Linked DNA regions of Homo sapiens: region 2 is linked to region 1. Evidence: fine-mapped expression QTL. A gene starts in region 1. The other region holds a variant in brackets. All regions are shown on one strand. Distances are between the middles of the regions. Region 1 holds the start of LINC00622 (long intergenic non-protein coding RNA 622). Region 2 has its middle 22 kb from the start of LINC00622.

Region 1 (5,379 bases):
TCCTCTCATGCTCTCGCGGGGCTGGTGGCCCAGAGGTCTTACTCCTTGGAGGCTATGTGAGCCATGAGGTTCACCATCCTGTTGCTGTACCCAAATTCATTATCATATGAGAAAATGAGCTTAACAAAGTGGTCACTGAGGGCAATGCCAGTCCCAGGATTGAAGGTGGAAGAGTGGGTGTCAATGGTTAAGCTGGAGGAGGCAACCTGGTTCTCAGTGTTGCACAGGATGCCCTTATGGGGGCCTTCTGATGCTGCTTCACCACCTGCTTGATGTTATCATATTTGGCATGCTTTTCCTGAGGGCAGGTCAGGTTCATGACCAACATGTTCGTGGTGGGGACCTGGAATGCCATGCTAGTGATCTTCCCATGCAGCTCATTGATATACTTGCCCACAGCCTTGAGAGTGCCAGTAGATGCAAGGATGATGTTCCTTTGAGCCCTGCAGCTGTCATGCCACAGTTTCACAGAGGGGCCGTCCACAGTCTTCTGGGTGGCAATCATAGCATTTACTGTGGTCATGAGTCCTTCCACTAAATCGGAGTTGTCATGGATGATCTTGGCCAGAGATGCTAAGCAGTTGGTGGTACAAGAAACACTGTTGATGATCTTGAGGCTGTTGTTATATTTCTCATGGTTCATACCCATCACAAACATGGGGCTGTCAGCAGAGGGGTTAGAGATGATGATCCATTTAACTGGCCCCTACAAATGAGCCACACACTTCTCCATGGTAGTGAAGACGACACTGGAGTCTATGATGTACTTGGTGCCAGCATTGTCCTATTTGATTTTGGTGGGATTTAGCTTTTGGAAGATCGTGGTGGGATTTCCATTGATGACAAGCTTCCTGTTCTCAGCCTTTACGGTGCCATGGAATTCACCACGGGTGGAATCATACTGGAATACATAGACCATGTAGTATGGAATTTGTAGACTATGAAGGGGTCATTGATGGTGACAATATCCACTTTACCAGTTATAAGTAGCCTTGGTAACCAGGCAACCAATGGGGCCAAATCCATTGACTCTGGCCTTCACCCTTACCATGGTGTCTCAGGGATGCGGCTGGCGCTGCACAAGAAGATGCGGCTATCTGTCGAATGGGAGGAGCAGAAAGCTACAGCATATTATTTAACCCATAGTTATCATATTGAGAAATTCTTCACACACTCTGATGTCAATAGGTGGTGACTCGGGTGGGCACCACTTGACATAGCAGGCTGACATTCCCTGAGCATGTGGACAATTCAGTTGTCTCAGTGTCACTTGTTTAAAAGACAATCTTTTTCCCTATTGAATTTGCTATTGTCAAAATCAATTGGCCATATGAATTTAGGCCATTAACCCACACATAGGCAAAACTTCCCTCAAAATAAAATAAAGGCCTAAATTTAAGGGCTAAACTATACACCTCTTAGAAGAAAACATAGATTATTATATTCATGATCTTGAATTAGGCAAAAACCCAACTTTTCCTGGTTAAAAAATAGTTGAAAAATGAAACAGGATCAAAACTAAAAATGTTGGCATTTAAAAGCCACCAATAAGAAAATGAAGAGATAAACCAGAGACTGAGAAAAAAAATTCAAATCATATATTTAATACAGGACTCATATCCAGAATATGAAATACACTTACAACTACGCAACAAAAAGATAAATAACCCAATTTTAAAATAGGCAAAATATTTGAATAACCATTTCATCAAAAAGGTGTAGGAATAGACAATAAAATACATGAAAAGATGGTCAGCATCATCAGTCAGCAGGGACATGCAAATCAAAACTACAGTGAGACACCACTTCTTACCCACTAGAATGCTATAATAAAAAAGGACAGTAACACCTGGGGGAAGTGAAATAATGACGTGGAAAAACTAAAACACTCACGCATTGTTGATGGGACATGCAGTCACGTTGGAAACCAGTTTGGCAGTATCTTAAAATGTTGAAGATATATTTACCATATGACCTAGCACTATCACTTCTAGCTATCTACCCAGAAGAAAAAAACCTATGTCCACACAACACATGAATGTGAATATTCATAGCAACTTTATCCATAATTGTCCATAAAGTAGAAACACTCAAATATGTATCAACTGATAAATGAATAAACTAATGGGAGCTATCCATACAATTTAATAGGATTTGTCCCCTAACAGGATTAAAATATTGATATGTGCTGCCACATACATGAACCATAAAAGTATATTAAAGTAAATGAAAGAAGACAGATACAAAAGACCACATATTGCATGATTTCATTTATATGGTCTCCAGAAAAGGCAAATCTGTAGAGTCAGAAAGTCAATTAGAGGTTGCCTGGAGCTGGGGACTGGGAAAAAGTGGTGGTGACTGATGAACATAGGGGATTTCTTAGGAATGATAGAAATGTTGCAAAACAGGATCATGGTGATGGTCACACAAGTCTAAAATTTTACTGAAAATAATTTAACTGCACACTTAAAACAAGCGAATGTTATGTCAATTATACCTCAGTAAAGCTGTTTAAAAACAAAAGAAATTTAGTAGTGTGGCCCCCATCAGTCTTGCCCTTTGTTTAATTTCTCACTTTCTTTAGGGCTTTTATTTATCGGTTCCACTCAGAGACTCCAAGAGACACTGGCTGAAATCTATCAGCCTCCAGAACTCTCAACAGCATAGGGAATGTCTGGCCCCATCCGAAAGGTGATGGGATCTGTAAGGTGCACTCTAGCATGTGCTATAGCAGGCAAAGGTGTGTGATGCACCTGGGTGGTTCAGATAGTGCTCCACATGTCTCAGCAAGACCCAGGGCCTGTAGCTATCGGAGAACAAGCTGCTACATCTTGCAGCACAGGGCCAACCTTTTCTAGGCAAGTGGGTTTGAAGCATTGGTAGTCAGGTCCCAAGTAGCAGTTGAATGTTTTCAACATGGGAGGAGGGCAAGACCTAGAGTGGGGTTTCAAAGCAAATCATTTGTAGAATATTACTTCCAACAACTGCAGAAAGCATTCGTTTCAAGTGTTTATGGGATGTTCACCAACACAGACCTTTTGCTGCACCATAAAACAAGTCTCAATATATACACAAGGATCAAAATCATACAGAGTATATGCTATGGCCACAGTAGTATTTAATTAGAAATTCAAAACAATAAGATATCTAGAAGATTCCCAATTTCAGAAAACAAGCTACATACTCTGTTGGTATCGGTCACTTGGGTCAAAGACGAACTCACAAGAAAAAATTCAAAACATCATTAACTGAGTGATGATAACCCGATGCATCAAAATGTTGGCTGCAGCTGACACAGTGCTTAGAGAGAAACTTACAACTTTAAATGCCTGTAGTGGAAATGAGCAAAGGACTAAAGTCAATTATATATGCTTTTATAATAAGAACCCTGAAAAAAAGGAGTAAAACAACCCCCAAGTTAATAAACATAAGCTGATAATAAAAACAAAGAAAATCATGAAATAGAAAAATGAACAAACAATAGAGACAATCAATGGTCAATCCTTCTGTACTCCATGAACAAAACTTCAGTTCAGAATGATTTTATATTTAAATATATATCCAGAACCACAGAGATCTTAGAAGAATAAATTAAGAAAATATAGGAATAAAATGAAAATTCTGTGGGAATAAAAATCAGAAAGTAGCTGCCTACCAGGGTAAATTGGGGGCAGGGGAGGGAATTAACTAAGAACAGGCAGAAAAGAACTTTCTGCAGTGAAGGAAATGACCAATACATTTTTTGGGTGCTACTTACATGGGCATACATAACTGTCAAGGTTCATCAAACTAAACACGAGCTCTGGGCATTTTAGTGAATATAAATTACACCTGATTACACCTGGATTTTTTTTTTTTTTCTTTTTTGAGACGGAGTCTCACTGTGTCGCCCAGGCTGGAGTGCAGTGGCGCAATCTCAGCTCACTGCAAGCTCCGCCTCCAGGGTTCACGCCATTCTCCTGCCTCAGCCTCCTGAGTAGCTGGGACTACAGGCGCCCACCACCAGGCCCAGCTAAGTTTTTGTATTTTTAGTAGAGATGGGGTTTCACCGTGTTAGCCAGGGTGGTGTTGATCTCCTGAATTCATGATCTGCCTGCCTCGGCCTCCCAAAGTGCTGGGATTACAGGCATGAGCCACTGCGCCTGGCCTCGATTTTTTTAAGTAGAGGAAAGTATCTTGGAGAGCTTATGGTGGTGAAATTTGGGCAGTTCTCAGGTATACGCTCAAGGAGCATTCACAGCATCTTCAGAAATTTGCTGAGAATGGTTTTGTACCCAAAAATATGGGAAAAGTTCAAACATCTATGATAAGAGTCATTGGAGCATACAACCACAAATCCCCACTCCTGTGGTACAGGCCATATCATTAAATGGTTAACACTAGATAGCTTTCCTTCAATGGTGTTCTTCATCTAGGAACCCAGAGCTCTCTGGGGGAAAATTGCAATTGAGGTTTTGGATATATTGAATAGGTAAGTAAGTCACCTCCGTAAAACTTAGTGATTGGAGCTGTCACCATTGCAAATTTCTAAACTTTGCAAGACAGCAGCAACATTTCAAATGACACTCAGAGAGAGGAGATAACGAGCTAATGTGGATTTCCTTCCAAACATATTTACTGCACAAAAGCAAAGTTCACATTACACTTGGAGATTTCTCTCAGCCTAGTTTAAGATCACAGATTGCGGATCCCCGATATCTGGTATCAACTGACCAGTGTCCTGTTAAGGCTAAACCTAAGACTCTTTACTGCATTGCTGCCTTAGAATTGGACTTCTCTTCCTGTTCCTGGGAAGAATTAGAGATATAGACTAAAGGTCACTATTCTTCTGAGAAAAGGGATGCTGGAGGAGGCAGGAGAAATGAGTATGTGGCAGGAGTTCAAGGGGATAAGGGGCAAGTCAGAAGCCACGGAGCATAAAGGCCCAGGGCTCCCTTAGGGGATGAAGTGACAAGCACCCTGACTCTTTTGTCCAGCTTTAACAATCTAACAGTAAGAGCTTCTTCATTTTCTTTCAGCTACTCCTGGCAATGGTGGAGACATGGAATTTTTGCAAAAAAAATGGGGTAGAGGAAAATAAGACATCTGTGTGAGTATATAACCATTTGATCTCTTTTTTTAGCCCTCTCCAGGGTCACCCTAGAATCAGATCTGCTCCCCAGCATCTTCTGTTTCCTGGAGTGTGTTGTCTGCTACTTTGGATTGGCCATGACAGGCTGGAGCTGCCTTGTGACAGGAGCAGGAGGGTTTCTGGGTTAGAGTATCATCCGCCTCTTGGTGGAGGAGAAGGAGCTGAAGGAGATCAGGGCCTTGGACAAGGCCTTCAGACCGGAATTGAGGAAGGAATTTTCTGGTAAGTAAACTTGATTCATGGGT
Region 2 (5,379 bases), 22 kb before region 1:
TGGGAAGCATGAACTAGGTGGAACCCACTGCAGCTTAGCAAGGCCTACTGCCTCTATAGCTTCCACCTCTGAGGGAAGGACACAGTAGAACAAAAGGCAGCAGACAGCTTCTGCAGACTTAAATGTCCCTGTCTGACAGCTCTGAAGAGAGCAGTGGTTCTCTCAGCACGGCATTCCAGATCCGAGAACAGACAGACTGCCTCTTCTAGCAGGTCCATGACCCCCATGTAGCCTGACTGGAAAACACCTCCCAGTAGGGGCTGACAGACACCTTAAACAGGTGGGTGCCCCTCTGGGACAAAGCTTCCAGAAGAAGGATCAGGTGGCAATACTTGCTGCTCTGCAGCCTCCACTATTGATACCCAGCCAAACAGGGTCTGGAGTGGATATCCAGCAAACTCCAACAGACCTGCAGCTGAGGGGTCTGACTGTTAGAAGGAAAACTAACAAACAGAAAGGAAGAGCATCAACATCAAAAAAAAGGACGTCCACACCAAAACCCCATCCATAGGTCACAGTCATCAACATCAAAGACCAAAGGTAGATAAAATCACAAAGATGGGGAGAAACCAGAGCAGAAAAGCTGAAAATTCCAAAAAAGAGTGCCTCTTCTCCTCCAAAGGATCGCAGCTCCTCACCAGCAAGGGAACAAAACTGGACGGAGAATGACTTTGAGGAGTTGACAGAAGCAGGCGTCAGACCTTCGGTAATAACAAACTTCTCCGCGCTAAAGGAGCATGTTCTAACCCATTGCAAGGAAGCTAAAAGCCTTGAAAAAAGGTTAGACGAATTGCTAACTAGAATAAACAGTGTAGAGAAGACATTAAATGACCTGATGGAGCTCAAAACCACAGCACGAGAACTTTGTGACACATGCATAAGATTCAACAGCTGATTCAATCAAGTGGAAGAAAGGGTATCAGTGATTGAAGATCAAACTAATGAAATAAAGTGAGAAGACAAGATTAGAGAAAAAAGAGTGAAAAGAAATGAACGAAGCCTCCAAGAAATATGGCACTATATGCAAAGACCAAATCTACATTTGTTTGGTGCACCTGAAAGTGACAGGGAGAATGGAACCAAGTTAGAAAACACTCTTGAGGATATTATTCAGGAGAACTTCCCCAACCTAGCAAGGCGGGAAAACATTCAAATTCAGGAAATACAGAGAACACCACAAAGATACTCCTCGAGAAGGGCAACCCCAAGACACATAATTGCCAGATTCACCAAGGTTGAAATGAAGGAAAAAATGTTAAGGGCAGCCAGAGAGAAAGGTTCAGTTACCCACAAAGGGAAGACCATCAGACTAACAGCGGATCTCTCGGCAGAAAACCTGCAGGCCAGAAGAGAGTGGGGGCCAATATTCGACATTCTTAAAGAAAAGAATTTTCAACCCAGAAACTCATATTCAGCCAAACTAAGCTTCATAAGTGAAGGAGAAATAAAATCCTTTAGAGACAAACAAATGCTGAGAGATTTTGTCACCACCAGGCCTGCCTTACAAGGCTCCTGAAGGAAGCACTAAACATGGAAAGGAACAACCACTGCAAAACCAGCCACGGCAAAAACATGCCAAATGGTAAAGACCATCGACGCTATGAAGAAACTGCATCAATTAATGGGCAAAATAATCAGCTAACATCATAATGACAGGATCAAATTCAAACATAATAATAACCTTAAATGTAAATGGCCTAAATGCCCCAATTAAAAGACACAGACTGGCAAATTGGATAAAGAATCAAGACCCATCAGTGTGCTGTATTCAGGATACCCATCTCACGTGCAAAGACACACACAGGCTCAAAATAAAGGGATGGAGGAAGATCTACCAAGCAAATAGTAAGCAAAAAAAAAGCAGGGAATGCAATCTCCTAGTCTCTGATAAAACAGACTTTAAACCAACAAAAATCAAAAAAGACAAAGAAGGCCACTACATAATGGTAAGGGATCAGTTCGCCAAGAAGAGCTAACTATCTTAAATAAATATGCACCTAATACAGGAGCACCCAGATTCATAAAGCAAGTCCTTAGAGACCTACAAAACAGACTTAGATTCCCACACAATAATAATGGGA[C/G]ATTTTAATACCCCACTGTCAATATTAGACAGATCAGTGAGACAGAAGATTAACAAGGATATCCAGGACTTGAACTCAGCTCTGCACCAAGCAGACCTAATAGACATCTACAGAACTCTACACTCCAAATCAGCAGAATATACATTCTTCTCAGCACCACATCACACTTATTCTAAAATTGACCACATAATTGGAAGTAAAACACTCCTCAGCAAATGTAAAAGAACAGAAATCACAACAAACTGTCTCTCAGACCACAGTGCAAACAAATTAGAACTCAGGATTAAGAAACTCACTCAAAACTGCACAACTACATGGAAACTGAACAACCTGCTCCTGAATGACTACTGGGTAAATAACGAAATGAAGGCAGAAATAAAAATCTTCTTTGAAACCAATGAAAACAAAGACACAATGTACCAGAATCTCTGGGACACATTTAAAACAGTGTGTAGAGGGAAATTTATAGCACTAAATGCCCACAAGAGAAAGCAGGAAATATCTTAAGTCGACACCCTAACATCACAATTAAAAGAACTAGAGAAGCAAGAGCAAACAAATTCAAAAGCTAGCAGAAGACAAGAAATAACTAAGATCAGAGCAGAACTGAAGAAGATAGAGACACAAAAAAACTTTCAAAAAAATCAATGAAGGCCGGGCGCGGTGGCTCATGCCTGTAATCCCAGCACTTTGGGAGGCCGAGGCAGGCGGAACACGAGGTCAGGAGATTGAGACCATCCCGGCTAAAACGGTGAAACCCCGTCTCTACTAAAAATACAAAAAATTAGCCGGGCGTAGTGGCGGGCGCCTGTAGTCCCAGCTACTTGGGAGGCTGAGGCAGGAGAATGGCGTGAACCCGGGAGGCGGAGCTTGCAGTGAGCCGAGATCCCGCCACTGCACTCCAGCCTGGGCGACAGAGCGAGACTCCGTCTCAAAAAAAAAAAAAAAAAAAAAAAATCAATGAATCCAAGAGCTGTTTTTTTGAAAAGATCAACAAAAAAGATAGACTACTAGGAAAACTAATAAAAAAGAAAAGAGAGAAGAATCAAATAGATGCAATAAAAAATGATAAAGGGGATATCACCACCGATCCCACAGAAATACAAACTACCATCAGAGAATATTATAAACACTTCTATGCAAATAAACTAGAAAATCTAGAAGAAATGGATAAATTCCTAGACACATACATCTTCCCAAGACTAAACCAGGAAGAAGTTGAATCTCTGAATAGACCAATAACAGGTTCTGAAATTGAGGCAATAATTAATAGGCTAGCAACCAAAAAAAGTCCAGGACCAGATGGATTCACAGCCGAATTCTACTAGAGGTACAGAGGAGCTGGTACCATTCCTTCTGAAACTATTTCAATCAAAAGAAAAAGAGGGAACCCTCCCTAACTCATTTTATGAGGCTAGCATCATCCTGATACCAAAGCCTGGTAGAGACACAACAAAAAAATAGAATTTTAGGCCAATATCCCTGATGAACATCAATGTGAAAATCCTCAGTAAAATACTGGCAAACCGAATGCAGCAGCACATTAAAAAGCTTACCCACCATGATCAAGTAGGCTTCATCCCTGGGATGCAAGGCTGGTTCAACATACACAAATCAATATTCGTAATCCATCACATAAACAGAACCAACAACAAAAACCACATGATTATCTCAATAGATGCAGAAAAGGCCTGTGACAAAATTCAACAGCCCTTCATGCTAAAAACTCTCAATAAACTAGGTATTGATGGAACATATCTCAAAATAATAAGAGCTATTTCTGACAAACCTGCAGCCAATATCGTACTGAATGGGCCAAAACTGGAAGCATTCCCTTTGAAAACTGGCACAAGACAAAGATGCCCTCCCTCACCACTCCTATTCAACACAGTTTTGGAAGTTCTGGCTAGGGCAATCAGGCAAGAGAAAGAAATAAAGGGTATTCAATTAAGAAAAGAGGAACTCAAATTGTTTCTGTTTGCAGACAATGTAATTGTATATTTAGAAAACCCCATCCTCTCAGCCCAAAATCTCCTTAAGCTGATAAGCAACTTCAGCAAAGTCTCAGGATACAAAATCAATGTGCAAAAATCACAAGCATTCCTATACATCAATAACAGACAAACAGAGAGCCAAATCATGAGTGAACTCCCATTCACAATTGCTTCAAAGAGAATAAAATACCTAGGAATTCAACTTACAAGGGATGTGAAGGGCCTCTTCAAGGAAAACTACAAACCACTGCTCAACAAAATAAAAGAGGGCACAAACAAATGGAAGAATGTTCCATGCTCATGGATAGGAAAAATCAATATCATGAAAATGGCTATACTGCCCAAGGTAATTTATAGATTCAATACTATCCCCATCAAACTACCACTGACTTTCTTCAAAGAATTGGGAAAAAAATACTTTAAATTTCATATGGAACCAAAAAAGAGCCCACATAGCCAAGACAATCCTAAGCAAAAAGAACAAAGCTGGAGGCATCACGCTATCTGACTTCAAACTATACTATAAGGCTACAGTAACCAAAACAGCATGGTACTTGTACCAAAACAGACATGCAGACCAATGGAACAGAACAGAGACCTCAGAAATAACACCACACATCTACAACCATCTGATCTTTGACAAACCGGACAAAAACAAGCAATGGGGAAAGGATTCCCTATTTAACAAATGGTGCTGGGAAAACTGGCTAGCCATATGTAGAAAGCTGAAACTGGATCCTTTCCTTACACCATGTACGAAAAATAACTGAAGATGGATTAAATACTTAAATGTAAGACCTAACACCATAAAAACCCTAGAAGAAAACCTAGGCAATACCATTCAGGACATAGGCATGGGCAAAGACTTCATGACTAAAACACTAAAAGCAATGCAGCAAAAGCCAAAATTGACAAATGAGATCTAATTAAACTAAAGAGCTTCTGCACAGCAAAAGAAACTATCATCAGAGTGAACAGGCAAACTACAGAATGGGAGAAAATCTTTGCAATCTACCCATCTGACAAAGGACTAATATCCAGAGTCGACAAAGAACTTAAACAAATTTACAAGAAAACAACAAATCACCTCATGTAAAAGTAGACAAAGGATATGAACAGATACATCTCAAAAGAAGACATTTATGCAGCCAACAGACATATGAAAAAATGCTCATCATCACTGGTCATCAGAGAAATGCAAATCCAAACCACAATGAGATACCACTCATGCCAGTTAGAATGGCAATCATTAAAAAGTCAGGAAACAACAGATGCTGGAGAGGATGTGGAGAAATAGGAATGCT

What was found. PIP is the estimated chance that this variant, and not a neighbour inherited with it, causes the effect. A credible set is the group of variants that fine-mapping cannot tell apart.
Region 2: its variant is the best candidate, but not a certain one, in a credible set for the expression of LINC00622 in whole blood (TOPMed, PIP 0.61).

The regions. Positions count from the first base shown.
Region 1 is chr1:119,596,129-119,601,507 of GRCh38, forward strand. It overlaps LINC00622 (long intergenic non-protein coding RNA 622), which reads right to left and starts at 3,163. Exons shown (of 1, transcript NR_036540.1): 1 at 1,574-3,163. It also overlaps the pseudogene GAPDHP33 and the pseudogene HSD3BP5.
Region 2 is chr1:119,574,349-119,579,727 of GRCh38, forward strand. No RefSeq gene overlaps it. Among named protein-coding and RNA genes, the nearest start is that of LINC00622, 22 kb to the right of the region's middle. The variant C/G (reference allele first, on the strand shown) is at 2,082.